Homo sapiens: one gene and its partners. The protein of the gene in region 1 binds, or shares a complex with, the protein of each later gene. Each region holds a gene or a part of one and is shown in the gene's direction. Other genes may lie near its edges.

Evidence for each region.
Region 2: STRN4 (region 1) and STK25 share a complex: the UniProt entries of both Homo sapiens proteins name them as parts of the core of STRIPAK complex.
Region 3: STRN4 (region 1) and STRIP1 share a complex: the UniProt entries of both Homo sapiens proteins name them as parts of the core of STRIPAK complex.
Region 4: STRN4 (region 1) and STRIP2 share a complex: the UniProt entries of both Homo sapiens proteins name them as parts of the core of STRIPAK complex.

What each region holds. Positions count from the first base shown.
Region 1 is NC_000019.10:46,743,216-46,751,835, reverse strand, and holds the start of STRN4 (striatin-4), read left to right. Parts: upstream 1-5,385; 5' UTR 5,386-5,405; coding exon 5,406-5,687; intron 5,688-5,745; exon of another isoform or gene 5,746-5,779; intron 5,780-7,051; exon of another isoform or gene 7,052-7,076; intron 7,077-8,620. UniProt on the Homo sapiens protein: Calmodulin-binding scaffolding protein which is the center of the striatin-interacting phosphatase and kinase (STRIPAK) complexes.
Region 2 is NC_000002.12:241,498,213-241,506,069, reverse strand, and holds part of STK25 (serine/threonine-protein kinase 25), read left to right. Parts: intron 1-4,361; coding exon 4,362-4,592; intron 4,593-5,273; coding exon 5,274-5,330; intron 5,331-5,788; coding exon 5,789-5,897; intron 5,898-6,655; coding exon 6,656-6,813; intron 6,814-6,895; coding exon 6,896-7,081; intron 7,082-7,285; coding exon 7,286-7,431; intron 7,432-7,720; coding exon 7,721-7,835; intron 7,836-7,857. UniProt on the Homo sapiens protein: Oxidant stress-activated serine/threonine kinase that may play a role in the response to environmental stress.
Region 3 is NC_000001.11:110,050,767-110,055,141, forward strand, and holds the end of STRIP1 (striatin-interacting protein 1), read left to right. Parts: intron 1-189; coding exon 190-294; intron 295-916; coding exon 917-1,121; intron 1,122-2,898; coding exon 2,899-3,146; 3' UTR 3,147-3,875; downstream 3,876-4,375. UniProt on the Homo sapiens protein: Plays a role in the regulation of cell morphology and cytoskeletal organization. Required in the cortical actin filament dynamics and cell shape. Part of the striatin-interacting phosphatase and kinase (STRIPAK) complexes.
Region 4 is NC_000007.14:129,451,320-129,459,176, forward strand, and holds part of STRIP2 (striatin-interacting protein 2), read left to right. Parts: intron 1-293; coding exon 294-428; intron 429-800; exon of another isoform or gene 801-897; intron 898-1,907; coding exon 1,908-2,028; intron 2,029-2,822; coding exon 2,823-2,891; intron 2,892-3,101; coding exon 3,102-3,208; intron 3,209-3,924; coding exon 3,925-4,052; intron 4,053-5,119; coding exon 5,120-5,323; intron 5,324-5,380; exon of another isoform or gene 5,381-5,693; intron 5,694-6,503; exon of another isoform or gene 6,504-6,763; coding exon of another isoform or gene 6,764-6,895; coding exon 6,896-7,131; intron 7,132-7,392; coding exon 7,393-7,458; intron 7,459-7,857. UniProt on the Homo sapiens protein: Plays a role in the regulation of cell morphology and cytoskeletal organization. Required in the control of cell shape. Calmodulin-binding scaffolding protein which is the center of the striatin-interacting phosphatase and kinase (STRIPAK) complexes.

The sequences.
Region 1 (8,620 bases):
CAGCACTTTGGGAGGGCGAGGTGGGCAGATCGCCTGAGGTCAGGAGTTCAAGACCAGCCTGGCCAACATGGTGAAACCCCATCTCTACTAAAAATACAAAAAATTAGCCAGGCGCGGTGGCGGGCGCCTGTAGTCCCAGCTACTCGGGAGGCTGAGGCAGGAGAATGGCGTGAACCCGGGAAGCGGAGCTTGCAGTGAGCCGAGATTGTGCCACTGCAGTCCGCAGTCCGGCCTGGGCGACAGAGCAAGACTCCGTCTCAAAAAAAAAAAAAAAAAAAAATACAAAAAAGTTAGCTGGGCATGGTGACAGGCGCCTGTAATCCCAGCTACTTGGGAGGCTGAGGCAGGAGAATTGCTTGAACCCAGGAGGCAGAGGCTGCAGTGAGCTGAGACCATGCCATTGTACTCCAGCCTGGGCAACAACAACAAAACTCTGTCTCAAAATAAGTAAATAAACAAAAAAATGCATCTTGGCCAGGTGCAGTGGCTCACACCTGTAATTCCAGCACTTTGGGAGATTGAGGTAGGCAGATCGCTTGAGACCAGGAGTTTCAGATCAGCCTGGACAACATAGTAAGATGCCATCTCTACAAAAAATAAACAAAACTAACTGGATGTGATGGCTTGCACCTGTAGTCCCAGTTACTTAGGAGGCTGAGGTAGGAGGATCACTTGAGCTGGGGAAGTCAAGGGTGCAGTGAGCTGTGATGGCGCCACTGCACTCCAGCCTGGGCAATAGAGCGAGACCTTGTCTGTCTTTAAAAAAAAAAAAAAAGCATCTCCCATGTACTTCCTATCCCCCATTCCTGCTTTATTTTGCTCCCCTAGTAGTTATCACGTGGATTTTACTTAGCTTGTTTGTTGTCAGAATCTCCATGGAAGGCAGGGAATCTGTTTTCTTCCCTACTGTATCCCCAGAGCACAGCTCAGTGCTTGGTGCATAGCAGGTGCTCAATAAATACGTGTTGAATGAATGAGTGACTTGAATTATTAAGATAAGGAACGTGGGCTGGGTATGGGGGCTCACTCCTGTAATCCTAGCACTATGGGAAGCTGAGGCAGGAGGATCGCTTGAGCTCAGGAGTTCAACACCAGCCTGGGCAATATAGCAAAACCCCGTCTCTAAAAAAATACAAAAATCAGCCAGGCGTGGTGGTGCCTACCTGTGGTCTCAGCTACTTAGGAGGGAGGCTGAGGCAGGAGGGTCCCTTGAGCCCAGGAGGTGGAGGCTGCAGTGAGCTGTGATTCAGCCACTGCACTCCAGCCTGGGCGACAGAGCGAGACCCAGTCTCAAAAACGAAAGATAGGAACCTCTGGCTCAGAGAGATAAGAAGGATGCAGGGTCGAGAACCGAGGTCTCCGCTTCTGAGGCCCTGGCTCTTGCCACACTGTCTGACTGACTCTGGGCCAGGAAGGAGGTGCCCAGCAGGGCAGAGGACAGCAGCCAGGTCCTGGCTACCCTCAGGCCCAGCACAACTCTTGGCCCTCGCAGACCAGACACCAGCAGATTTGATGGCCAGATGAAGAGGTGCCACCTGCTGGTGAGGGTGTGAGGGAACCTGAGGCGGGGAAAGGAATCATCTAGTACCCTGATAAAGCCATGCAGACTTCACCGCCTCTAAGGGCAACAAACCCCTTCGTTGGGGCAAAGTGGATACAATGATGATTTTGAAGGTCTGAATGTTCTACATTTTTCTGAATCGGGAGGATAATAATAACAATTCTAGCAGCTCACCATGTGCCAGGCCCTGTTCTAAGCACTTTAGGCATATTCACTTGTTTAATCCTCGTGTTATGATCACATTTAAAAATGGAAACCAGCCGATGTGGTGGCTCATGCCTGTAATCCCAGCACTTTGGGAGGATGAGGCTGGGGGAGATTGCTTGAGCCTGGGAGTTTGAGACCAGCATGGACTGGTAAGACCCCGTCTCTACAAAAAAATTTAAAAAATTAGCCGGGCATGGTGGTGTGCACCTGTAGTCCCAGCTACTCTGGTGGCTGAAGTGGTAGGATTACTTGAGTCTAGGAGGCAGAGGTTGCAGTGAGTTGAGATTGTGCCACTGCACTCCAGCCTGGGTGACAGAGCCAGACTCTTTTTTTTTTTTTTTTTTGAGACGGAGTCTCGCTTTGTCACCAGGCTAGAGTGCTGTGGCACAATCTCGGCTCGCTGCAACCTCCAACTCCCTGGTTCAAGGGATTCCCCTGCCTCCGCCTCCTGAGTAGCTGGGATTACAGGCATGCGCCACCATGCCCGGCTAATTTTTGTATTTTTAGTAGAGATGGGGTTTCACTATGTTGGCCAGGATGGTCTCAATCTCCTGACCTCGTGATCCGCCCGCCTCAGCCTCCCAAAGTGCTGGGATTACAGGCGTGAGCCACCGCGCCTGGCCTCGAGACCTTATCTCAAAAAAAAAAAAAAAAAAAAAGGAAACAAAGGCACAGAGAGTTAAAGAGTTAAAGTCTCTTATTCAAGGTCACACAATGTGAAGTAGTGGACCCAAGAGTTGATCCAAGAAGCTGGCTACAGAGTCGTACTTTAAACCAGTAAACTTTACCTTCTCTCTTGGGTTCTTTCTGAAGCCCCAACTCTCAGCCCATCTTTAGTGAGCCTTCCCCAGCCCTAACCTGACAGGGGCTTTCAAAGCTTGGCTATGGCACATTAATAAATTAATTCAACTCAGTAACTCAACAAACTCAAGTATTCTTTGTGGTGGACCCCATGTTTTGAGGATACAGAATGAACGAGGTACTCATTAGGTCAGCCCTCCAGAAGACAGAAAGAAGACTGACAGGGCCACGTGTGGTGGCTCACACCTGTAATCTCAGTACTTTGGGAGGCCCAGGCGGTCAGATCACCTGAGGTCAGGAGTTAGAGACCAGCGTGGGCAATATGGTGAAACCCCCTCTCTACCAAAAAATACAAAGATTAGCTGGGCATGGTGGTGCGCACCTGTAATCCCAGCTATTGGGGAGGCTGAGGTGTGAGAATCACTTGAACTCAGGAGGCGGAGGTTGCAGTGAGCCGAGATTGCTCCACTTCACTCTAGCCTGGGTGAGACCCTGTCTCAAAACAAACAAACAAACAAAAAAAAGACGGACAAAAGCCATGCAACTTACAGACAGGGCAGGAAACCAGCAGGGGGCGCAAGAGTAGAAACAGGGGGCTTGCCTTAGAAATGGTAGTCAGAGGGGACAGTTACTCTGAGAGTTTACTTGTCTCTCCAGTCCCCACAAAACAAGGTAAATGAATCCAAATTCTCTTCAGGCCTTGGGTTCACTGGGTCTGAGTTGCGATTTGGCCTGAGCCTCAGTCCCTGCACCTGTGGAATGGGAATGTGACGGTTAGAAAAAAATGAGAGGGCTGGGCGCGGTGGCTCACGCCTGTAATTCTAGCATTCTGGGAGGCCGAGGCGGGCGGATCACGAGGTCAGAAGTTCGAGACCAGCCTGCCAACAAGGTGAAACCCCATCTCTATTAAAAATACAAAAAATTAGCCGGGCGTGGTGGCAGGTGCCTGTAATCCCAGCTACTCGGGAGGCTGAGGCAGGAGAATCGCTTGAACCAGGGAGGTGGAGGTTGCAGTGAGCCATGACCGCGCCACTGCATTTCAGCCCGGGCAACAGAGCGACACTCCGTCTCAAAAAAGAAAGAAAGAAAAAGAAAAAAATGAGAGACATGGGAAAGCCTTAAGGAATGAGGAAGGGCAGTTTCCATGAGAGTGTAGGTGACACTGAGGGACTTCTTACCTCCTAGGTTGTAGGCTGGGGGAGTTCCAGGAGGGCAGTTCCAGCCCAGCTGAGCTGCGCTCCTGAGAGGAGGAGAACCAGAAAATCCCAAATCAGCCATTTCCGTACAATAGAGCACAATTTCATCTTATCCACAAAAGTGGCAAGAGAAAGGTCAGGGAATCCTTTCTCTTGAAGTCCTATAATCTCGGGCACCACCTGGGGTGTCTCAGGAGTGGGGTGGGGTGAATGGGAGGGATGTCAGTTATTATAGCAACCTATAACCATCCCTCTAGCATGAATGTGTCCAGAAAAGGTAGGGCTAGAAGCCAACAGAAGCTGTTACCATGACAACCCCTTCCATAGACACACTCTACCTCTGAGAGACATTCTTAAAACATCCCCTGGCCGGGCGTGATGGCTCACACCTGTAATCCCAGCACTTTGGGAGGCCGAGGCGGGCCTGAGGCAGATCACCTGAGGTCGGGAGTTCAAGACCAGCGTGACCAACATGGAGAAACCCCGTCTTTACTAAAAATAAAAAAAAAATTAGCCGGGCGTGGTGGCGCATGCCTGTAATCCCAGCTACTTGGGAGGGTGAGGCAGGAGAACGGCTTGAACCGGGGAGGCGGAGGTTGTGGTGAGCCGAGATTGGGCCATTGCATCCCAGCCTGGGCAACAAGAGTTACACTCTGTCTCAAAAAAAAAAAAAAAAAAAAAAATCCCCTCCTTTGTTGGGCTTGGTTCCTAGGGTCACTCGAAGGGGGCTGCTCTATTATCATAGTAACCAGGCCTTGAACTTGCCTGTTTCTCACCTTCCGGAGGAAGGTCCAGGCCCTGTAACCATAGCAACTGCCCCTCAGCAGAGCATCTCCTCTAAATAAAAACACCTGGTTAGTTTGGTGCATGGGCCTCCCACGATGGGAAGGGGAAGACGGTTACCATGGTAATGCCAACTAGGTGGCTATGGGGGAGGGGCTGGGGAAGAGGTGCTTCTCTTAGAGATCAGTGTCCTTGGGGCTGGGGTCCTTTCTACCTGAATGCTAGGTGGGGGGGAGGTTGCCATAGTAATCAATGAGGATAGGAGCAGAAGGACCACCACGGACACTTAGGTTACCTTAGCAACCTTCTCCTGGTGCAGAGTCCTAAGAGGTTTGGGGCTCCATAACCACAAAGGTGGAAGCGAGGGGAAGGCTGCTCCCCACCACCTCGCCCCCACCGCTGGGGAAGGGTTACCATGACAACCAACCTGGCCGGCAATCAGAGAGGATGGGGCCACTGCTGGTCGCCCTTTCTCTCAGAGTAAAAGTAATTGTCCAGGAGAGTGGTGTTTGGGTGTGGAAGGGGTAAGGCTCTTTCTCTGGGGCGAAGTGGGAGGAGGGGGGCAGAAAGCGGCCCCTTCCTCAGTCTCACTCCAGCGAGGGGGACCGTCGCGCGGGGCCTGGGTCTCCCTCGCCCTCCTCGGGGCGCGATCTCCCACCCGCCGGCCCCCGCGCGGGCACGCTACCCTTCGGTGTAGACCCGGGTGGGCGAGGCTCGCGCTCGCCGCCGGCCCCCCTTCCTACTGTCCCCCGCCGGGCGCGCGCGCGGTGGTTGCGGCGGGGGAGGGGGGGGGGTGTTGGCGCGGCCGCGCAGGCGCGCGAGGCACAGCGGGCGCGCAGGCCGGCCCCGGGGCCTCCATGATGGAGGAGCGAGCGGCCGCCGCGGTCGCCGCCGCCGCCTCCTCCTGCCGTCCGCTCGGCTCAGGCGCGGGCCCTGGCCCCACTGGGGCGGCCCCGGTCTCCGCCCCTGCCCCCGGGCCGGGCCCGGCAGGTAAGGGAGGCGGCGGCGGAGGCAGCCCCGGGCCCACGGCGGGCCCGGAGCCCCTGAGCCTGCCGGGGATCCTGCACTTTATCCAGCACGAGTGGGCGCGCTTCGAAGCCGAGAAAGCCCGCTGGGAGGCCGAGCGCGCCGAGTTACAGGTGAGCGCTGTCCCGGGACCCCCGACCCCCAACCCGGCCCGGCCCGGCCCGGCCTCACCCGCTGCCGCCGCCGCCGCCATCTTGGAGCAATGGCCGCCGGGACGGCCGGCGGGGGGGCGGGAGGGGACCGCGACGGTCCCGGAGGGCGAGTGAGGGGCCGTCCGAGGGGTGTCCTGAGGGCACTCCGGGGTGGGACGGGACCGGGACGGCCCGAGGTGGGAGTGGAGGGACCGGGGGTGGGAGGGATCACCGGGACCGGCCGAGAGAAAGGGGCGGAGGGACCACAACCAGCTGGGAGTGGGACTGGGACTGGGACTGAGCACGCTGGCCGCGGGGCTCCTGAGAGAGGCGACTCGAGCCCTGGAGGGGAGGCTAAGAGAACTCGGGAAAGGGTGTGGAGAGGAGCTGGAGGGGTCTGGGAGACCTGAGTGGTCTCCTGTGGGAGTAAGCAGAAGCTTGCCGGGCGCCGAGGGACTCCCGACCCCGACCCCGACCATGGCCCTAGCCAGGTGCAGGTTGGAGGTGGGAGCGTCCAAGGGGGGAACTTGGGACCCGCTGGGAAAGAGCGGGTCCAGATGGGGAACCGGGAGGATTTAGGGAGAGGAAGTCGGGAACCTGGGATCGGTGTGTTTCGGGGCGACTGGACGGTGGGCACGGAAGGAGGGCTGTGTAAGGACCCGAGGGGTGGGAGGAGGGTTTCAAGGGGTCCAGGATGAAGGTGTGTGCCTTCCCCTCTGAGGAGAAACTTTGGGGATCCCGGGCATGTGTGGCTGCACAGTGCAGGGAAGGGTTCTTTGGAGTGGAAGTGTGGACAGAGCAGGGAATGTACCCTAGGAGCCTGGATGGGAGAGCTTAAGAGTGGAAGTTCCACTTTGGGGGTGTGCAGGAGTGGGCGCGATGGCACTGAGATGGCACGTGTGTTGTAGGATGTAGGTAGAGAGCCCTGAACTGGAGTGTGGGGTGTTGGGCATGTCCAGTATGGAGGTGAGGGTCCTGGGATGGTGCCAATGAGGACGAGTTAGGGGTTACCCTGGGGTGATGCTTTAGGGGGGAGAATTTTGTAGAGCCCGAAGGCAACATGAGGAGGCATCTCGGAACGGGGGTAGACTGGGGTTGGGGGGAAGGGGATATGTTTGTGGAAGTCTTGGGAAAAGACCCCGTGGTTTTTGGGGTAGCTTGGGACAGGGATGTTGAATGGAAGAGTCTGAGGAGTTGGGCTAGGGTTTGTGACCTCGTGGAGCGTCAGGTCCATTGGCAGTGACTGGAGGACCATGGAGATGTCCGGATTTGAAGGGATCAGGAATGGCCCGCTGGAAGTCTGAAGATTCTTGGACTGGGTTATTATTAGCAGAAATTGTCATTACCTGCTTGTAGCAGCCCACCTTTCCCCTTCCGATTTGCCGTTTGCTATCTAGTAGGAAGCTGGTACCCAAATAAATAGCTGATGAGAATTGTGTCGGTAGGGATGGGGTGCGGTGGCTCACGCCTGTAATCCCAACACTTGGGGAGGTTGAGGTGGGAGAATCCCTTGAGCCCAGGAGTTCGAGGCCAGCCTGGCCAACATAGCAAGACCTCATCTCTACAAAAAAGTACAAAAATTAGCCGGGTGTGGTGACATGCGCCTGTAGTCCCAGCTACTCAGGAGGCTGAGGTGGGAGGATTGCTTAAACCCCGGAGGTTGAGGCTGCGGTGAGCCATGATTGCACCACTGCACTCCAGCCTGGGCAAAAGAGTGAGATCCTGTCTCAAAAAAAAGCATTTTGTTCATAGGATGAGTAAAGACCCTCCAGTAACTCTCCCCCTGCCCTCACTTGTGGTGGCTGAGGCTTGGGGCTGGGATGGGAGCAGAATCCTTATGTAACTGCTCTCACTTCTGTCCCACTCTCTACTTCCGAAGCTCTTTCCCAGCATACATCTCATCAGATCTTCACAATGCCCTGTGATGTAGGCAGAGGCAGTGTCATTACCTCACTCAGCAATAACGGTACCAGCTGCAATTTAGTGAGCACATACCATGTCTGGGGCGCTGTATCAAGTACTGTAGATACGAGCTGTCATTTAATTCTTGCAGCATTCTGGGAGGATAAAGGATATTCCCCCTACCTTTAAAAAAAATCAGGAGAGGAAATGGAGGTTTTGAGAGGGTGATTTATCTAGGATCCCAGCAGATGAGCAGAAGGGCTGGTCTGTGGTGGACCTTTTGTTTATTTATTTATTTATTTATTTATTTTTATTTTTATTTTTTTGAGACAGAGTCTCACTCTGTCACCCAGGGTGGAGTGCAGTGGCATGATCTTGGCTCATTGCAACCACTGCCTCCCAGGTTCAAGCGATTCTCCTGCCTCAGCCTCGCAAGTAGCTGGGATTACAGGTGTGCACCACCACCACGCCTGGCTGATTTTTGTATTTTTAGTAGAGATGGGGTTTTGCCACGTTGGTCAGGCTGGTTTCGAACTCCTGGCCTCAAGAGATCCACCTGCCTCGGCCTCCCAAAGTGCTGGGATTACAGGCATAAGCCACCATGCCCGACCGTCGGTAGACTTTTAAGCCCATGTTCTGTACCTCTCTGCTACCCAGTACAGTTGAGAAAATTGGTTCAGGCAAGCATAGTGGCCTCCCCAGGGTCACCCAAGCAGTCATAGCAGAGCTTGGACTGAATCTTGGCCTCTGGGACTTTGCACCAGTGCACCGCACAGCACCCACCACACCATCTTCTCATCCTGGAGGCTGATGAGAGAAAAGATGTTTATCCCCTCACTTACTGACCCTTCTTGGAGTTTGAGAGGAACTTGTGTCTGGCATGGTACCAGCACTGTCACTTTGTACTTTTGTTTTCTTTTATTCTGTTAAGTTAGTAAAAATTCAGACATCTCAGAGGGGTGTGTGTGTGTGTGTGAGTGTGTGTATACACATATATATGTAAGTGAAAAAGG
Region 2 (7,857 bases), on another chromosome or scaffold:
GGTGCCAGAGCACTGTATCACCACTCAGCTATGTGTGCTGGGTCATTCCCCTTGTTTTGTGGGGCAACACTGACAGCAGACACATTGGCAAGTGGAGGCCCCAGACCTGGCAGCCCCAGGGCTAATGTGGAGAACAGGTGTCCACCGCTCGAGTCAGCTGAGTGGCCCGAGTGATCATCCAGGCCACAGCTGCTGCTACATCCAAAAGAGGATTCGCAGCCTCCAGGCCAGGGGCCCACTTACCCTTTCTTCTCCAGGTGGGGGTGGGGATGGCTTGCCTTGGCTTGGCCTGCGATGTCATTGTAGGGCCAGGATCACAGCCAAGAGGGTTCCTGTCACACAGTTTCTGCTTGGGCTGATGAGCCCTGGCTCTGGCTTAGGGGTCCGCTGTGCTCCCCTGCTGTGAAGCAGTAGAGGTCTGAGTGCCCACCCAGGGGTTTCCCTACCGGGGCTGCTGTGATGGAGCAGATTCAGCTCCAGGCCCTGTGTGGAGAGCAGCATGGCCTCAGCAGGGAGCAGGGAGTAGAGCAGGGCGGGAGGACGCGTCATCCAGAGAGGCCTGAAGAGTCGGAGGGGTGGTGGTGCTGGGTAATGCTGCCAGGTCATGGCCCTGCTTTCTCCAGGCCCTCTCTCAGGCCACCTTAGACAGGAGTAGATGGGAGGACACAAGCTCAGGGCACCAACAGACCTCTGGAATCCCCAGGAGGACTCCCTTGGGGTCTTTCCGGGTGCTTGGGCAGGGTTGGGTTGAGGCTGAGGCCAGGCCTACAGGCTAACGGCTCGGTGGAGCAGCGTCCCAGGGCCCCGAGTAAGCGTTGATGGGCTGAGCAAACAGGGAGGATTTGACAAGGTGGCGTTGGGCCTGCTGGAGGAGGAGCAGGCAGAAGAGGGGCTGCTTCTGCAGATCACCTGAGGTCAGGAGTTCGAGACTAGCCTGGCCAACATGGTGAAACCCTGTCTCTACAAAAATTCAAAAAAAAAAAAAATTAACGGGGCATGATGGCGGGTGCCTGTAAGTCCGGCTACTCGGGAGGCTGAGGTGGAAGAATCGCTTGAACCTGGGAGGCGGAGGTTGCAGTGAGCCGAGATCACGCCACTGCACTCCAGCCTGGGCAACAGAGTGAGACTCTATCTCAAAAAAAAAAAGAAAAAGAAGAGGGGCTGCTTCTTAACCTTGTCCTGCACCTGGCATCCAGGACTGGGCTAGGAACGGGTGGTCCTCCACCAGAAATGGAGCAAACAGGGAGGAGGAAACGGAGATGATGCTCTCTATGGCAGGAGGGTGATATTTTAACACTGACTGCTTACCTATGACAGCCAGTGGGCTGATGAGCTTATGCTTTGACATGCACTTGTGGGCCCAGCTACTCAGGAGGCTGAGGAGACCAGCCTGGGCACACAGCGAGACCCCCCATCTCAAAAAAAGATTGCATGTTCTGGGTTGACTTTCCTTTCAGATAGGGGCTGGTTCTCACCTCATCTGTGCCACCCACCCTCAACCCGGAGACAGCTGAGCACCTGTGACTTGTCAGCTTTGAATTTTTCCTGGCTTCTCTTTAGAACACATGGTCAGCAGCAGTGATGGGGCTGGGGGCAGACACAGCTCACCTTGACCGGAATGACCCCAGGCAGTACTCAGCTCTCTCTATCCTGCCGAGTTTCTTGACCTTGGCTTTGGGGACTCCTGGTAGCAGGTGGGCTCAAGGCACCCCCTGCTGTTTCCTCCATGGGTACTGGCTTTAGGACTGGGCTGCTGTACTGATGAGAGAATGAGAAAGGTCACTTTTGACTCGACCAGCTGTCTCAACTGGCCAGACCTTTGGGCTAAGCAAGGGTCTGTGTGTACACTGCAGCTGGCCTGCTCTAGCTGCTGCATGGAGGCCACCTGCACACCCCCGGGCCTTGACAAGCCAGCCTTGCAGGGAAAGGTTAGGTGGCCTCTGGCCCTCCCCTAACTGCCTTTCCTTCCCCAGAGTTCCAGTCACCTCGAGGTCTGGCACTCAAAAAGGGATGTGCAGCGGCATGTTTCAAGGTGGGGGCCTGTGTGCCGCCCCTTCCACCCTCCTGGTTAGGAACCCTGGGAGGTCAGCTAATTGGCAGTTTCACACGGAAGTGTCGCCTCAGGCTGGTGCGATGTCCAGTTGGCTTCAGCCAGCTCCTCCGCTGGGCTTAGGCCTGGGGTGGACCCAGCACACAGGTGTCCAGGGGGTGAGTGTGAGGGCTGTGTGTGGTGTACCCCATCCTTCTTGGTGGGCACGGTCTCCGCAGGCCCAGGAACGTGCAGGGCACCCCCACCCAAGGACCTGTCCTGTCTTCAGTGTTTTTTTTTGTGGCATAATTAGTCGTTTTGCCTTTTTTTTTTTTTTTTTTTTTGAGACGGAGTCTTGCTCTGTCGCCCAGGCTGGAGTGCAGTGGCACGATCTCCGCCTCCTGGGTTCATGATATTATCCTGCCTCAGCCTCCCGAGTAGCTGGGACTGCAGGCGCCCACCACCACACCCGGCTAATTTTTTGTATTTTTTAGTAGAGACGGGGTTTCACCATGTTAGCCAGGGTGGTCTTGATCTCCTGACCTCGTGATCTGCCCGCCTCGGCCTCCCAAAGTGTTGGGATTACAGGCGTGAACCACCGCGCCCAGGCTGTTTTGCCTTTTTATGCTCTGCCACACTAAATTGGCATCAAGACCCTTGATGTTGTTAGGGGAGGGGCCGTGCGTGGTGGCTCACGCCTGTAATCCCAGCACTTTGGGAGGCTGAGATGGGCAGATCACCTGAAGTCAGGAGTTCGAGACCAGCCTGGCCAACATGGTGAAACCTTATCTCTACTAAAAATACAAAAAATTAACTGGGAGTGGTGGTGCATGCCTGTAATTCCAGCTACTTGGGAGGCTGAGGCAGAAGAATCGCTTGAACCCAGGAGGCAGAGGTTGCAGTGAGCCAAGATTGCACCACTACACTCCAGCCTGGGTGACAGAGTGAGAAGCCATCTCAAAAACATTTAAAAAAGGGTCGAGGCTTGAGGACACACCTCTGCTGGCTTCCCCTGGACTCTGGGCCTGGGCCACAGACCCCAGGCACCTTCCACACCACTGGCTCAGAAACTTTTAGGCATTGCTTCTTTAAATCTGAGGACTGTGTGAGGCAGCTTTCTGCATCAAGAAAGCATCAAGTTTCTAACTCCGCGCTGGTGTAGCTGTCAGGAGGACTTATGGAGGGGTGAGGGAAGCCCTTTCTAAATACGTGACTTTCAGGAGTGGAGGAGAACTTGGTTAACACATACTGAGGTTTTTTGTTTTTGATGAGGTTTTTTTTTTTAAATTTTTTATTTTTTTGAGACCTAGTTTCGCTCTTGTTGCCCAGGCTGGAGTGCGATGGTGCGATCTCGGCTCACCGCAACCTCCGCTTCCCTGATTCAAGTGATTCTTCTGTCTTGGACTCTCAAGTAGCTCGGATCACAGGCATACGCAACCTCGCCCGGCTAATTTTTTTTGTATTCAGTAGAGATGGGGTTTTACCATGTTAGTCAGGCTGGTTGCGAACTCCTGACTTCAGGTGATCAACCCGCCTTGGCCTCCCAGAGTGCTGGGATTTCAGGTGTGCACCACCAAGCCTGGCCTGATGAGTTTATTTTTTAGTAATTTCAGATTTATAACAAATTAAGTAAGAGCTCCCAAATCCCCCCTCACCCCCAGGGGCCATTCACCTATTAACATCTGTCACGGGGCTGGCATGTTGTTCGGGTTAGATGAGGCAACCTTCATGCCGTGTCATCACCTAAAGCTCCTGTTTCCAGCAGGGTTCATCGAGTTGGCCTGGCCTCTTTATACTTTCTGGGGACTTTTTCCCTTGCATGGAAAGTTCAGTTTAGGTTTTTTTGTTGTTGTTATTTGTTTGTTTGTTTGTTTTTTTAATGGAGTTTGATTCTTGTTGCCCAGGTTGGAGTGCAATGGTGCGGTCTTGGCTCACTGCAACCTCCGCCTCCCGGGTTCAAGCAATTCTCCTGCCTCAGCCTCCTGAGTAGCTGGGATTACAGGCATGAGCCGCCACGCCCAGATAATTTTTTTGTATTAGAGATGGGGTTTCACCATGCTGGCCAGGCTGGTCTCGAACTCCTGACCTCAAGTGATCCACCTGCCTCGGCCTCCCAAAGTGCTAGAATTACAGGCGTGAGCCACCACGCCCGGCCAAGTTTAGTTTTTGAACAAAAAGGGAGAAAGGAAGAAACCAGAGAAGAATTGAGGTGCGCTCCCTTGGACTCCCCCTTCCCTACAGGTCCCTTCCTCCCCAGCAGGGCAGCCTCTGCCTGTCCCCCGCCTCTTGTGACCGGCGCTGTCTGCCCTCTGTCCCCGCCCTGGCCCCACAGCACTCTCGAGTGGACCCTGAGGAGCTCTTCACCAAGCTCGACCGCATTGGCAAGGGCTCGTTTGGGGAGGTCTACAAGGGCATCGATAACCACACAAAGGAGGTGGTGGCCATCAAGATCATCGACCTGGAGGAGGCCGAGGATGAGATCGAGGACATCCAGCAGGAGATCACTGTCCTCAGTCAGTGCGACAGCCCCTACATCACCCGCTACTTTGGCTCCTACCTAAAGGTGCCTGTTGTGGGGAGGCGGGGACCCTGCTGGTGCTGTGCCCGGCTCTCTTCCATGTCAGAGGGACTGAGTGACATGCCAGAGGGTGCAAGGCGGTCTTGACGGTTCAGTGCATGCCCTCCGGGAAACTGCCCTGGGCAGGCAGGGTGTGAGCCCTCGTCCACGAGGGTCAGTTGGCTCTAAATGGCCATTGGGACCCACTTGCCTGCCTGTGGTAATGCAGTGAGGGCGCTGCTAGGAGCACTCTGGGGGGCCCCTACTGGCAGTGGTGAGTGGGCCTGTGAGGAGCAGGTGGCTGGTGGTGCCAGTGTCTGGGGTGTAGGGAACGCTGTGGCCATCCTGCCCAGGAGGGTGATGGGTGTGTCGGGTCACATGCTTGCCAGCCATGCCCTCTTCCCAGCCCTGTAGGACTGGATCAGCAGCCTGGTTTTTGATGGGGTCTTGGTGAAGTGGAGTCAGCCACTGCTGTGTGTACTCAACCTGTCCTCTGAGCATCTGTAGCAGTAGTGTGGCAGGAGGGGAAGATGGGCAAGGCCGAGAGAGCCCTTTCCTGTTCAGGGTTCTTGGCAGGGATGGGACCGGTGGGGCCTGGGCCCTGGCTGACTCCGGCCTGTGACTCCCACCCTGGAGCATGCCCTTCCTCTTGCTGCCAAATGCTGATGGGTTTGTCTCCGGTCCCAGAGCACCAAGCTATGGATCATCATGGAGTACCTGGGCGGCGGCTCAGCACTGGACTTGGTGAGGCATAGGCCATGGCAGTGGGGGGTCATGCAGTGTCCGAGTCCCCTGCCCCTCAGACTCATGGGCTCCAGGGGCCACCTCTCGTTTGGTGTCATGGCACGTTAGGTGTTAATTAGGAATCGTCTAAAGCAAAAATGAACTGCCATCTGCACGTCTGCCCAGTTGGTGCTGAAAGGGGTCCTGGCCTGTGGGAGTGGGCGGGGGCAGGCCTGCTGGGAGATGGCTGGGAGCCTATTTTTCTGTTACATGACAGTAAGGTGAGGCTGGTTTATATGCTTTAGAAAGAGCCTCCACCACCCCACTCCCATCTGAAACTTAGTTCTGTTTGGGAAGTAAAGGAACACGAAGCCCCCAGCTATCTGCAGGGACAGCCCTTCCCTGTGAGAGAGGCAGAGAACTCAGGCATTGGGCCTGGGACAGGAGCTGAGGCCCTGCTGTCGCACCTTCCTCTCCAGCTTAAACCAGGTCCCCTGGAGGAGACATACATTGCCACGATCCTGCGGGAGATTCTGAAGGGCCTGGATTATCTGCACTCCGAACGCAAGATCCACCGAGACATCAAAGGTCCTGCTGGGGGTGGATGTGGCTCTTGTAACGTCCTGAGCCCCACTGACCTTAGAGAGGCCGGGGCCTGTGAGGGGCAAGTGGCTAGTGGTGCCCAGGGTCTGGAGTATAGAGAACCTTGTGGCCACCCTGAAACTGAGCAGTCCTGTCTCGCTCCCTTTCCAGAAGATACTACTTGTAACGGTTTCCTTGTACGCTGAGGAAACCAGCTGTGGACTGAGTGTAGGAAAGGGCCACACTTGGCTGGAGTTGTTGGTTCCCTGTGGTGCACGGCACAGCAGCAGGTGTAGAATTGAGTAGCCCCAGCGTGTGGTCTGGCCCTGCTGAGAGCAGACGGGAGGCTGGGCCAGCCCATGGGGAGGGACTTGCCACTGGCAACGAGCCATCTCTGTCATGTAGGGGACGATTCTGGTGGAGCAGGGGGCTTCCTGGCAGGCCCGTGTTGGCTACACCCTTGGTCAGGGTCACCTCTGCGGTAGCCCCCAGTGGGCGAAGTCGCTTGTCGTTGGGATTTGTCGTAAAAGCCAAATGCAGGAAGAGCCCTGGAGCTCGGAGTGGAGCCGTTGGGCTCCTGCTGGCAGTGCCCCTGTGGCCCTAGGTGGCCCTGGGTTTGAGAGTGGCAAGGAGGGCTGAGGTCCTGAGGACAGCCCTGCTGTGCCCTAGGAGGCCAGGTGGATGGTACCCTGGCCCTTCTCAGGGGGCCCGGGGTGGAGCCACGTGGAGCCTGGGATGACGCCTGCCTGTCCTGTGTCAAGCAGCTGCCAACGTGCTACTCTCGGAGCAGGGTGACGTGAAGCTGGCGGACTTTGGGGTAGCAGGGCAGCTCACAGACACGCAGATTAAGAGGAACACATTCGTGGGCACCCCCTTCTGGATGGCACCTGAGGTCATCAAGCAGTCGGCCTACGACTTCAAGGTGGGTGCAGCGGGCGGGCAGGTGCGGGCACCATGCCTGGCTCGGGTGCTCAGGGCAGCAACAGTCCTTGTGTTCTGTCCAGGCTGACATCTGGTCCCTGGGGATCACAGCCATCGAGCTGGCCAAGGGGGAGCCTCCAAACTCTGACCTCCACCCCATGCGCGTCCTGTTCCTGATTCCCAAGAACAGCCCACCCACACTGGAGGGCCAGCACAGCAAGCCCTTCAAGGAGTTCGTGGAGGCCTGCCTCAACAAAGACCCCCGATTCGTAAGGCCCGCCTCTGGCCCGGTCCCTTCTAGACAGGACGTGGAGGGAGGGCGTTCGCTTGGGGTGGGCGGCACAGCCCGGAGGCCCAGGCCCACCAGCCTTGTAGCTGTGAGGGCCCGCCCCGGTCCAGGCTGCCTCACGTTTGCTTCCCTTAGGCAGAGCTTGGCTGGGCCCAGTGACTAGTGTTCCCCTGACCCCCTGCAGCGGCCCACGGCCAAGGAGCTCCTGAAGCACAAGTTCATCACACGCTACACCAAGAAGACCTCCTTCCTCACGGAGCTCATCGACCGCTATAAGCGCTGGAAGTCAGAGGGGCATGGCGAGGAGTCCAGCTCTGAGGACTCTGACATGTAGGGACCTGGTTTATCCTCATGGTGACCCTAGGTGCTGTGACGTGGGTGGTCCCCACTCCAGAAGCAGGGGCGTGGGCCCTGGGGGTGAGGGTGACCAGATATAGTGTTGGGCAGGGACCCCCTCAAGGCTGCAGGACAGGGCCTGCTGAGGCATCAGCTGGACCCCGTGGCCTGGCAGAGCCCCGTCTGGTACCTCGGGTTTCCCTTGGCCGTGAGGTGTGCCCTGAGGCCCTCATGCCTCCTGGCCCTCTCCCCACTGGCCCTGGCAACTCCTCATCCTCTTCAGTGATGGCGAGGCGGAGGACGGGGAGCAGGGCCCCATCTGGACGTTCCCCCCTACCATCCGGCCGAGTCCACACAGCAAGCTTCACAAGGGGACGGCCCTGCACAGTTCACAGAAGGTCTGTTCCTGGCCTGGCCTTT
Region 3 (4,375 bases), on another chromosome or scaffold:
GGGAGCCTCCCTCTTCCCCTAGTCCCCTGCCAGCTTCTGGGATGGAGTCCTGGGGCTGCTCTGAGAGCAGGGGATTCCTGGTAGAGGCCTGGAGACCCGGCTGTCCTGAGATCATGTGTGAGGGACTTTTGGAAACTGCTGCACACACTGCAGCCATGAGGGCTGATTGTTCCTGGGTTTACCCTGCAGGAAGCAGGTGACAGTAACCAATTTTGCTGGAGGAACCTCTTTTCTTGTATCAATCTGCTTCGGATCTTGAACAAGCTGACAAAGTGGAAGCATTCAAGGACAATGGTAAGTGAGTCAGTGTAGTCAGCAGGCTTGGAACTTGGAGCTCAAAGAAGAGTGCTGGGAGCAGGGAGTCCCCAGGGTGGGGCTCACTGTGCCTTCTCACTTAACTTTGCTGTAGCCGTATCCTTGCATTTTAAGGGCCAATTCCCAGTTCCTTGATGAATTGAACTGGAAGCTGGAAGAGGCCCAGTCATGCACTGAAACAAATCTACATTTATAGAAGAACTTTTTCCATGTCGTCTTAATCTTGATTGGTAACATAATCAGGGTTCTGAGAATCTTCCTTAACTCTGGGTCTGTGGATGCCTTTGGGGTGGGGAGGTCCTTGAATCCTCTGATAACTGTGTGTACATGTACACCGGAATGTTTCTGGAAGGAATCCATAGCTTTCTTCAGATTCCAAAGTGACACATAGTTAGGGTGACCAACCATCCTGGTTTGTCTGGAACTCTACTGGTTTTAGCATTTAAAGTCCTATGTATCAGGAAACTCTTCAGTCCAAGGGAAACTGGGATGGTTTGTCACCCTGACAGTAACTTCCAAAGGGTTAAGCAGCAGTGTGACCTGGGATGTATGCATTTATTTTTGTCTTCAACTTGGGCTGCTTGCTTGTTTCCCTTCCCAGATGCTGGTGGTGTTCAAGTCAGCCCCCATCTTGAAGCGGGCCCTAAAGGTGAAACAAGCCATGATGCAGCTCTATGTGCTGAAGCTGCTCAAGGTACAGACCAAATACTTGGGGCGGCAGTGGCGAAAGAGCAACATGAAGACCATGTCTGCCATCTACCAGAAGGTGCGGCATCGGCTGAACGACGACTGGGCATACGGCAATGGTGAGACTCTGCACTCAGCCAGATTTGGGTGGGAGTGTGTCGGGAAAAGTGACATCTTTCACTCCCTGCCCGTGGTACTCAGGTACTTCTCTGCCCTGAGCTTCCCCCCAAGGAACAGGAAGGAGCCCAGCTCCTGCTTTTGTAGCATCAGGATGGGCACTCTAGGAAGGACTTTGAGAAGCTACCCAGCCTTGGCATCTGCGATCATCCCCATCTCTCCTTGTACCTCCAAGTCATTCCTTTTCTAGAAATTGTCATAAGACTGTGTCCCCTCTTTTCATCCCCATTTTGGCCACCTAAACTCTTACAGCTCTTGACTGACTTCCCTGCCTCTAATTTCTTCCCCTCCATCAGTGTCTCAGATTTCCCTAGTGATCCTTTTTTACTTTGATGTTTTTTAAAGATAGGGTCTCGCTCTGTTGCCCAGGCTAGAGTGCGATCCTGGCTCACCACAACATCTGCCTCCTGGGCTCAAACTATCCTCCTGCCTTAGCCTCCTGAGTAGCTGGAACCACAGGCACATGCCACTGTGCCCACCTAATTGTATCTTTTTTATAGAGACAGGGTTTCACCATGTTTCCCAGGGTGGTCTTTTTTTTCTTTTGAGACAGAGATTCTGTCGCCCAGGCTGGATTGCAGTGGCACAGTCTCAGCTCACTGCAACCTCTGCCCCCCAGGTTTAAGCGATTCTCCCCCCTCAGCCTCCCAAGTAGCTGGGACTACAGCTGCACGCCACCATGTCCAGCTAATTTTTGTATTTTTTGTAGAGATGGGGTTTCACTGTGTTAGCCAGGCTGGCCTCGAGTTCCTGGCCTCAAGAGATGCACCCACCTCGGCCTCCCAAAGTGCTGGGATTACAGGCATGATCCACTGTGCCCAGCCTTCTCAGGGGGTTCTTGAACTCCTGGGTTCAAGCGATCCACCAGCCTCGGCCTCCCAGAGTGTTGGGATTACAAGCGTGAGCCACTGCGCCCGGCCCCCTAGTGAATCTTTTCAACATGCAGATCCTGTGCTGTTACCTCCCTGAGTAAAATCCTTCATTAGCTTCCTATTTCCCTTAGAATTAGATTCAGACTCAGGCAGGGCATGTGAGGCTCCCTCGTCCTTTTTCATTCTCCTCCTCTGTAATCTGACCCAGCTTCCTTTTCAACCTTGTTACGGGCTGTCAGTCCAGCCTCCATCATACCCAGAGCTCCAGGCACAGGGAGTGCTCAGTCCCTGAACATAGCCGTGTGGTTCCCACTACTAGGCCTCTGCAGGCACTCTTCTTTCGCCCACAGTGTGTCTCCCCTGCCCACCTGGGCTGCTCTGTGTGTGCGTGTTGCTGCGTTGTTGCGTTTCTGGAATATACCACCATGGCTGAATGACTGTGTCTGTACTCTCAATGCCCTGTGAATGTGTGCAGGCCCACAGTGGCACACGGTACCTGGTTGGGGAGTTGAGAGAGAATGAGCAAAGGAGAAGATCTCCAGGTTCCTCCCTCTGACCCCAGAGAGCCAGGGAGAATGCCACTTTGAGAGAAATGTGTTGTACACATGGTTCTCCCTCTCTGGGTCTACATAATCCCTACAGTATAAGCCTCTTTCTCAGTACCTCTGGCTTTTCTGCTTGTACTTGACTCTCCTTTGGATCTAGGAAGGAATTCCTGGCATCTTTCTGAGGATGAGCTCGGAGGTATCCTGCTCTTAGTTGACACTCAATATTCCTGGCCAGTGAATCCATGGGGAGCTGCTACAGGGCATGGCTCCTAACGGTGTTTCTTCCTGCTTTGTCTCAGATCTTGATGCCCGGCCTTGGGACTTCCAGGCAGAGGAGTGTGCCCTTCGTGCCAACATTGAACGCTTCAACGCCCGGCGCTATGACCGGGCCCACAGCAACCCTGACTTCCTGCCAGTGGACAACTGCCTGCAGAGTGTCCTGGGCCAACGGGTGGACCTCCCTGAGGACTTTCAGATGAACTATGACCTCTGGTTAGAAAGGGAGGTCTTCTCCAAGCCCATTTCCTGGGAAGAGCTGCTGCAGTGAGGCTGTTGGTTAGGGGACTGAAATGGAGAGAAAAGATGATCTGAAGGTACCTGTGGGACTGTCCTAGTTCATTGCTGCAGTGCTCCCATCCCCCACCAGGTGGCAGCACAGCCCCACTGTGTCTTCCGCAGTCTGTCCTGGGCTTGGGTGAGCCCAGCTTGACCTCCCCTTGGTTCCCAGGGTCCTGCTCCGAAGCAGTCATCTCTGCCTGAGATCCATTCTTCCTTTACTTCCCCCACCCTCCTCTCTTGGATATGGTTGGTTTTGGCTCATTTCACAATCAGCCCAAGGCTGGGAAAGCTGGAATGGGATGGGAACCCCTCCGCCGTGCATCTGAATTTCAGGGGTCATGCTGATGCCTCTCGAGACATACAAATCCTTGCTTTGTCAGCTTGCAAAGGAGGAGAGTTTAGGATTAGGGCCAGGGCCAGAAAGTCGGTATCTTGGTTGTGCTCTGGGGTGGGGGTGGGGTGTTTCTGATGTTATTCCAGCCTCCTGCTACATTATATCCAGAAGTAATTGCGGAGGCTCCTTCAGCTGCCTCAGCACTTTGATTTTGGACAGGGACAAGGTAGGAAGAGAAGCTTCCCTTAACCAGAGGGGCCATTTTTCCTTTTGGCTTTCGAGGGCCTGTAAATATCTATATATAATTCTGTGTGTATTCTGTGTCATGTTGGGGTTTTTAATGTGATTGTGTATTCTGTTTACATTAAAAAGAAGCAAAAATAATTCCCGTTGGCTTGTCTACAGGAAATATGGCCTCTACGTATCTCCTCCAGGTCTAGAAAGTGGTTTTTTCTGCTAGCATTGCTGGTCAACGCTTGTCCTTGTCAAGCTGCCTGCCTTTCCCATCCTGGGGGAAGAGGAGAGAGAGTTGGCATTTATCCAGTGTAAGTTAACCCCACAGTAATCTGGGATTGCTCTAGCCCAACTCCAGGGCACTAGGTTACTTTACTGACACATTGTCCTGCACCCCTGGGTTTGCTGTAATTTCAGTAGGAGCCCCAGGTTTCTCTGGATCACATCACTGAGCTGGCCTCAGCCAAACCAGTGTCAGTGCTATGGAGGGAGGGGCTAGGTCAAAGCAAGGGGGTCTGCTGCTCTAGGTCCTCCCTGGGGCAGGTGGTTGGGACTGAGGGGAAACTTCAGTACTCAGAGCCTAGGAAGCAGACCATCAGGAGTCAGGTTCACGGTGGGAAAAAGTGTTGGAGGGCCCAGGAGCCCCCTGT
Region 4 (7,857 bases), on another chromosome or scaffold:
GAATATGTAGGGAGACAGAGGGAACTCCTTGAGGAAAGGCAGAAAGACAGGACAGTATGGGCTGTGTGTGGAGGACAGAGGGGATGTTGAAGGTGAGGCTATAGACTGGGTTCAGGCCAGAACATTTTGGGTCCTTTTCCCATACCTTATTCTTTCTCAGTGAAATAAGGAAAGCTTTTGGAGAAAATAATTTTGGCAGGGGAGCTGAGATCAGAGGTGGATATGCTATGAGGAGCCTTTCCAGGAAGGGTGGCAATAGCTGACACTGGATGTATATGGCCTTTTATTCCCAGTGCAGGGCAAGGAATGGCTGGAGTTGGAAGAAGATGCCCAAAAGGCCTATATAATGGGACTCTTGGACCGGCTAGAGGTGGTCAGTAGGGAACGGCGGCTGAAGGTGGCCCGGGCTGTTCTCTACCTGGCCCAAGGTGAGTGACCACCCTTGCTAGCTTTAGAGGGGTGGAGGCTTGAGAGGGAAGTGGGCATTATCAGGACTGAGATGACGCAGGCTGTGCTGGGAAAGCAAGGTTTCTTGCCTCTCAAGGACAGATCTTGTCATGTGCTAGGAGTAACCTGTGCTTATGAGGAAGATGAGATAGTGTTGAGTGCTGTTCTAGATCCCTCGGGATCTGCCTTTATCTTACCAGGTATGTCAGAATTTTTTATAGGGTTCTTCTTTTCCCTACCCTGTACTATAATCATATGTGAATACTAGCAAGAGGTGTGGCCAGAGCTGATATGTACCACCAGCTGATCATGGAGACAAGACATCAACTGTGGCCTGGCCCCAAAACTGAGGAGAAATAGGAGAGTGTCACAGATACACATGGACCCCTTGCATTGTTTCTCATTGGCATTTTGAAAGTTCAAGCCAACATAACTGCGGGAGTGGATGCTGTGAGTAATTTGGAGATGATCAGAACTAAATAGAGTAATTGGGGAAAGCTGCTCAGAAGAAACCTGTTAGCCAGGTGTTGGAAAGGGAAATGAGATAGCCTAGCTGGAGTGAAAATAAGCCTACGATCATAAATATAAGGCGTGTTAACAGAACCAACCAGTTGGGAGCTAAAAAAAAAATTGTAAAATAAAAAAATAATAAATGAAGAGGGGAAAGGGTGGACATTAGGTGAAGAGAAGACTAGCAAATAGGACTGTGCCCTCCTGTATCTCTTGGGTCTGGTGCTCTGGCCAACTTCCAACTGCCAGTACCTTCATATGTTTGCCCAAGGACTTTATTTATCTAAGTTTTTTAAAAGAAAGTCTCACTGTGTTTCCCTGGCTGGTCTTGAACTCATAGGCTCGAGCTATCCTCCTGCTCCAGCCTCCTAAGTAGCTAGGATTATAGGCATGTGCCACCATGCTCAGCTTCTGCTCAAGGGCCTTCTCTGCAGCCCATACAGGGCATCCAGGAAGTGTAGGGAATCAGTGTGCTCCTTTAGTTTAGCACCCTCATCCAATGACTAACAGGAGTTAGTGGATGGATAGCCTGACTGTCTCACCCCTCTTGGATAGAATAACTGTGAGTTGTGTGTTTTATACTGTTTCCAAATTATCCCCTGAGTGAACTCTTTGGGCTTCCTTTTCTTCCCTATCTCTACTGATGATTCCTGGGAATGATTCCCAAATAAGCTACTTGCACTGGAATCCTTACTTACCTCAGGATCTGCTTCTGGGAGAACTCACCCTTAAGACGATAGGCCATTGATGAGCACATTGGACCTAACCCTGGAGACTACCTCTCCTCTCCCCTGACTCATTCCAGGAAGTTCTTGGGGCCCCTGTCATACCTATGTCAGCCTAATTATTAGGCAGAGTATTATAGGAAAATCTTAAGATCATGGGGCAGGGTGGAAAGAACTGGGATACTGCCACCCCTCAACCCCTGTAACAACTGTCTGGTCCTTTAGGTACTTTTGGGGAATGTGATTCAGAGGTCGATGTGCTACACTGGTCCAGGTACAACTGCTTCCTGCTGTATCAGATGGGGACCTTCTCCACCTTCCTGGAGCTACTCCACATGGAAATTGAGTGAGAAGCCTTAGGGGAAGGGCTGGCCTACATAACCCCCATTCCTTAAAGGGGCCTCATGTTCTATGCTGCTTCCCTCACTATAGAGACCCCCTGTGAGGAACTGGGTCTACTCACACCTCAGCCCAAAGCTCATTGACAGTTCCCCTCCATCCAGCCATGTTCTCTGATATTCTGTTCTCCCTCCCTGAGGTTGGATACATCTGCAGCTTCTGCCTCACTTACAGCTTTAATCCTGGGCTTCAGGGGCCTATCCTGAGTGGGTTCTCTTTTTATTCAAGGACTTTCTTAGCTCAGCCTAACTCTGGAATTCAAGAGGGAAACTATTTTGAATGCATGACCCAAGAAAGACAGGAAATCAATTCCTGTCATTGTGCCCAATTCTTTCCCTCATGGGCTATAGTTCTAGAGGTGGCCTTATTTGCTGCTACCACTACAGTGACCCCTTGTTTTGTCTCATGCCCATCACCCAGGAGTTTGAGATAGGGTGCAATCTGCTTATTATTCATCAGGTGTTTCTTAGCATCTGTTTTATGTCCAGCACAGTTCTAAGCATAGTGGGGAATGCAAGAGGAGTGGATACCACAGATCCTGCCCTTGCCTTGTCTTCACCATAGATGAGAGTTTGCTGAGGTGGCAGGGGAATTCTGTCAGCTCCTTTACTCTAGACCAGTTTCATTAGTGGCTGCCTAGCCAGGGAATGGCAAGCACTCATATTTGTGTGAGTGATAAGTAAGAGCACAGAGAGAAAAGAAGTCTTATGCATTCCTGTTCTTTTTCTCCTCCCCTGGCAGCAACAGCCAGGCCTGTAGCAGTGCCCTTCGGAAACCAGCTGTCTCCATAGCTGATAGCACAGAGCTCAGGTGAGTGGGGCTAACTATGGGCTTGGAACAGGGCAGATGATTAGCACCTGGGTTACCTTTTCCCCAAATCCCAGATGACTCAGACCATTAGGAAGTTGCCCTGTAGCTAATCTCACTGGGTTGGGCTTCCCACAGAGACCATCTCTGAGGTCTGTGACTATGGGCTGGGAATTGCCTTGGGAACCTCTTGTGACTCTTCTGTAACCCCAGGGTGCTGCTGAGTGTTATGTACCTAATGGTGGAAAATATTCGCCTGGAGCGAGAGACAGACCCCTGTGGGTGGAGAACAGCCCGGGAGACCTTCCGCACTGAATTAAGTAAGAAATGGCACTTGAGGAAGGTGTGGATGGGGTGCTAATGGGAGAGGGGAAGCAGAGCATCTGCCTAGGAGAGGCAGACAGTCGTTTTTTCTTTTGTTTTCTTTTTTAAAATTAATGTCCTTTCTTTTAGGACACAGATACTGCATGGCAGGCACAAGGGCTGGGCTTGATTGCCGCCCTGTATCTATGAGCTAAGACCAGCCATGTAACTTCTCTATGCCTTGGTTTCCTTGGTTATAAGTGGGGATAGCCATTCCTCTCCCACTCTATCACGAGTCCCACATGAAAAAATGAGTTGAATCACCTTGAAAACTGAGTTCTGTTCAAATGTAAGTTGGTGTTGTCATCTGACAGGGATAGGATATGAAGGACTATGGGATTTTAAAAATATATTTATTGATGTGGAAAAGTGAATGACATTGAGTCCTTTAGCCAGAAAGCAATGTCTTCATTATTGTTACTTCTAGTTTGGCATCCAACCCCAAAGCGTCACCCTAAGCTCTGGGGCCTATGCCATTTTAATTCCATGGCGTCCCTTCCTGCCCTTGAGGGGCTTCCTTCTGGGGGCTAAGCCTCCTTCTCAGGACCAAGTACTCTGGTATTCTTCAGGGGAGGTGAGTGCCTTCCTGTGTGTGTCCAGAATCAGGGTTACATGAAAAAGGTTTTAGCTGCCTCATCCTCACTTTCTCACTCCCCTCTCTCCTCACCCCTAGGCTTCTCCATGCATAATGAGGAGCCTTTTGCCCTTTTACTCTTCTCCATGGTTACCAAGTTCTGCAGTGGCCTGGCTCCTCACTTCCCCATAAAGAAGGTCCTGCTCCTGCTCTGGAAGGTGGTCATGGTGAGTAATTCTCCCCACTCCCACATTATCAGATCAGCAATGCCCTATGCCACCTCAGTTTCTTCTAGTCTCATTCCAGGAGGCTGGATCCAGGGAGCAGAACAGGCAGCCCTTAGCCAACTGCTAATATGGAGGGGCAACAAGGCTGTCCTAGAGACATCAGATGTTCTATGTTAGAATGGGTTTCATGTTTCTATTGGATGGATGGGAGATGCCACTCCATAAATTGGGGATGTCAGTGGTACCTTCTCTTATTAAAGCCAATGTTTGATGGAGAGAACACTGGTTGAAAGTTGGTAGATCTGGGCTTTGCTGATACTGAGAAACTTTGGGCAACTCTCTGTGCCTCAATTTCTCTAGCTGTAAAAGGTTGGGGTGAGTGCCTGCCCTCCCTCCAGATAAACAGAGGTTTTGTATTTTTTTTTTAATAAAAATAATTTTTTCTTACAGACAGGCCTCCCTGTGTTGCCTGGGCTGGTCTTGAACTCCTGGTCTCAAGCAATCCTTTCACCTTGGCTTCCCAAAATGTTGGGATTACAGGCATGAGCCATTGTGCCTGGCCAGGATTTGCTTTTTAAAAAATAATGAAGTTCTTATAAATATGTGGTTACATTTCTGTTACTAGTTATTCAACCTGATCCTTCATTTTTGGCTCCCATCTCACAAGGCAGGCCTAATAGGGGGAACTGCCTCTTGACTGCAGAGGAAATTGAGTGACTCTGGGGGTTTATAGCACCTGGATGGTGTTCCTTAAAAAAGTCGATAGTTTCTTTTTTTTCTTTTTTTTTTTTTTTGAGGAGGCCCGCAGGAATTCCTTTCCTAAATTCTGTGATATTTCCCATACTGGGGCAGTAAATAATGCCTTATCCTGACCCCTGAGCTCCTCAGTTGCCGTGGGGATGGTAATCATATTTGCCTCTTTATGTTTTACTACCTCCTTATTAAGGAAAAGGTCTGAAGGGACTGGAGGTTGTGGCCCTTTCTTTTCATCCATGTTTCCCTGACCTTGGCTCTCTCTTACTTCCCTTCCTTCCTCTCTCTCTGCCCCTTTCCTGTTTCTTCCTTAGTTTACCCTCGGTGGATTTGAGCATCTGCAGACTCTCAAAGTACAGAAGCGGGCAGAATTGGGCCTGCCTCCACTGGCTGAAGACAGTATCCAGGTGGTGAAGAGCATGCGTGCTGCCTCCCCGCCCTCTTACACTCTTGACCTGGGAGAGTCTCAGCTGGCACCCCCACCCTCCAAGCTGCGAGGCCGCCGTGGCTCTCGAAGGGTATGGACTGAAGCAGACAATGGTATTGGGACACCGACTGGCCAAAAATCAAGATTCTAAGTTACTCTGGGTGTGGTAGGAAAAAGCAGTAAATGACCCGGCTCATCCTGCCCAGGTTGGCCCTATGACCAACCTGAAATCTTAGGGTCTCTAGTTTGGCCTCTGTCCCCCAGCCCTGACAGCCCCCTGCGCTGTTGTGATGTGACACTGTGATATCATGTCATATATAGCCATGTCTTGCTACAGAATCATTGGCCTGGACCTCAGTGCCTGGAGTTCCTTACATTCTGAATAACAATTAAGGGTATAATCCTGGGGATAGGGACCCAGGATACCGGAACAGGTCTCCAAGCAAATCCATTTTTCTGGGGTAAGGCATTTTACTATTTTGAAGCACCAGGAAGTTTTACTGTCAGCCAGCCACACTCTTAACTGGCCCTGGAACCAAAGGCTTACATTTAAGAGATGACTGGGTAGGGGTCTATGTATATAACCATGTGACACTAAACGACAGGGATACAATCTGAAAAATGTGTCATTATGCAATTTTGTCACTGAGCAAACATCATAGAGTGTACTTACACAAACCCAGATGGTATAGCCTACTGCACACCTAGGCATATAGCCTATTGTTCCTAGACTACAAACCTGTACAGCAGGTTACTATACCGAACACCATATGCAATTGTAACCCAATGGTGTTTGTGTATCTCAACCTAGAAAAGGCCAATAAAAATACAGTATTATAATCTTATGGGTCCACAATTACATATGCAGTCCATTGTTGACTGAAGCATCGTTGTGCAGCACATGACTATAGTCTGCTGTCCTGAAAAGGTCAGAATGAAAAGTTATACTGAGATCTGACTATGTTCTTACAAACTCCCCTGCCTGACCCACTTCAGTTTATCAACAGGGCTAGATAGTAGTGCTCAGTAATCCAGTCTCCATTATCTGCAATAAAATTTTTTAACTTTATTTTTGTTTTATAAAGTAATGCTTACTCATTGTAGAAAATTTGGAACAAATATAAAAATGTGATGAAGGGAGAAAAGAAAAATCACCCACAATCTTAACAACCAGAGACAGTCACTGTTAACTTTTTGGCCTATTTCTGTCCAATCTTTTTTTCTTTGTCACAAGATTTAAAATTCCAAACTTGCTTCCCTCTGCCTAGCAGCAAGCTTCTGTCCTCCTCTTCCTCAGTCAGCCAGCTGGTGTATGCTCACAGAAGGCAAACTAATTGAATGTTCACCTAAGCAGAGCATAATTAGGAAGGAAAGTGCTGGCAAAAAAAGGCATCACTGCTTTCTGAAAGCTAAGTAATTGTGACTTTGGGATTATCTATGCTATGTTCCCTGGCTAATGGCAGGGTTACCTGAGAACTTCTTGTCCTGTTATTGGGCCGGGTGGGGACAGTAGGTTAAGGTGGGGAATTGGATGTTTTCGCAAGGGCTGTGTTCAGATTCCATGTTCCCTGAAATGTGGAGGCCTGTGGATATGGGGTGGCCTCAGACAAGGATGCCCAGAGTGAGATCTCTGCATGCCTACCCTCCCTTCTTTCCCCTCCAGCAACTCCTCACTAAGCAGGACAGCCTGGACATCTACAATGAAAGGGATCTCTTCAAGACTGAGGAGCCCGCCACAGAGGAGGAAGAGGAGTCTGCTGGTGATGGAGAACGAACCTTGGATGGAGAGCTAGACCTGCTAGAGCAGGACCCTCTGGTGCCACCTCCACCCTCACAGGCACCCCTCTCTGCTGAGCGGGTGGCTTTTCCCAAGGGCCTGCCCTGGGCCCCAAAGGTCAGGTAGGTTTGATAGCATCAGGGACCCCTATGCTTCGGGGTTTCAGTCTCCAAAGGCCCAAGATGGGGTAGTCTATGTATTCAAGGCTCGTTAAGTTGGTCTGGCAGTCAGAACTCCTGGGTTTGAAATTCCTTCTGTTGATTGCTGCCTTTTTCCACTGCTCCAGTCCTCTGATTGGAGGGATAGGAGCCCGGAAAGTTTTTCTCTCTCAAAGTTTGCTTTTCTTCCCTTCTCTGGGATTGGTCTTTCCACCATCCTCTCAGACAGAAGGACATTGAGCACTTCTTGGAGATGAGCAGGAACAAGTTCATCGGATTCACCCTGGGGCAGTAAGTGACTGAATGGCTGGAACTGGCTACAGAGTGGTTCCTAGGGGGCCAGAGGAGCAGGTAGCTTGGAATGAGGGATGGTGCCTGGTGGTCATAATGTAACCTAGAGCCCCTAGGCCATGGACAACTCCCAGTGACTACTTTGGGTTCTTTCTATGGATTTCTTTTTTCCTTGAGTTTCTTCCACTTTTCCTCAAAGAACTTTTGTGTTTTTAGCCAACTGTAGGACTTTGAGCAACAAGTCATTTCTCTTTCGGGCTTAATTTTTTCCTGAGGTTGTTGGGTTAGATGGTTTCTGTGGGCCCTTCCTGCTCTAATGGGCTAAAATTCTGTGAACAAGAGACATGGTCAGAACGGATCCAGTCTTCCCCCATTCCCCAGCCTCATGAATCCTTCCCA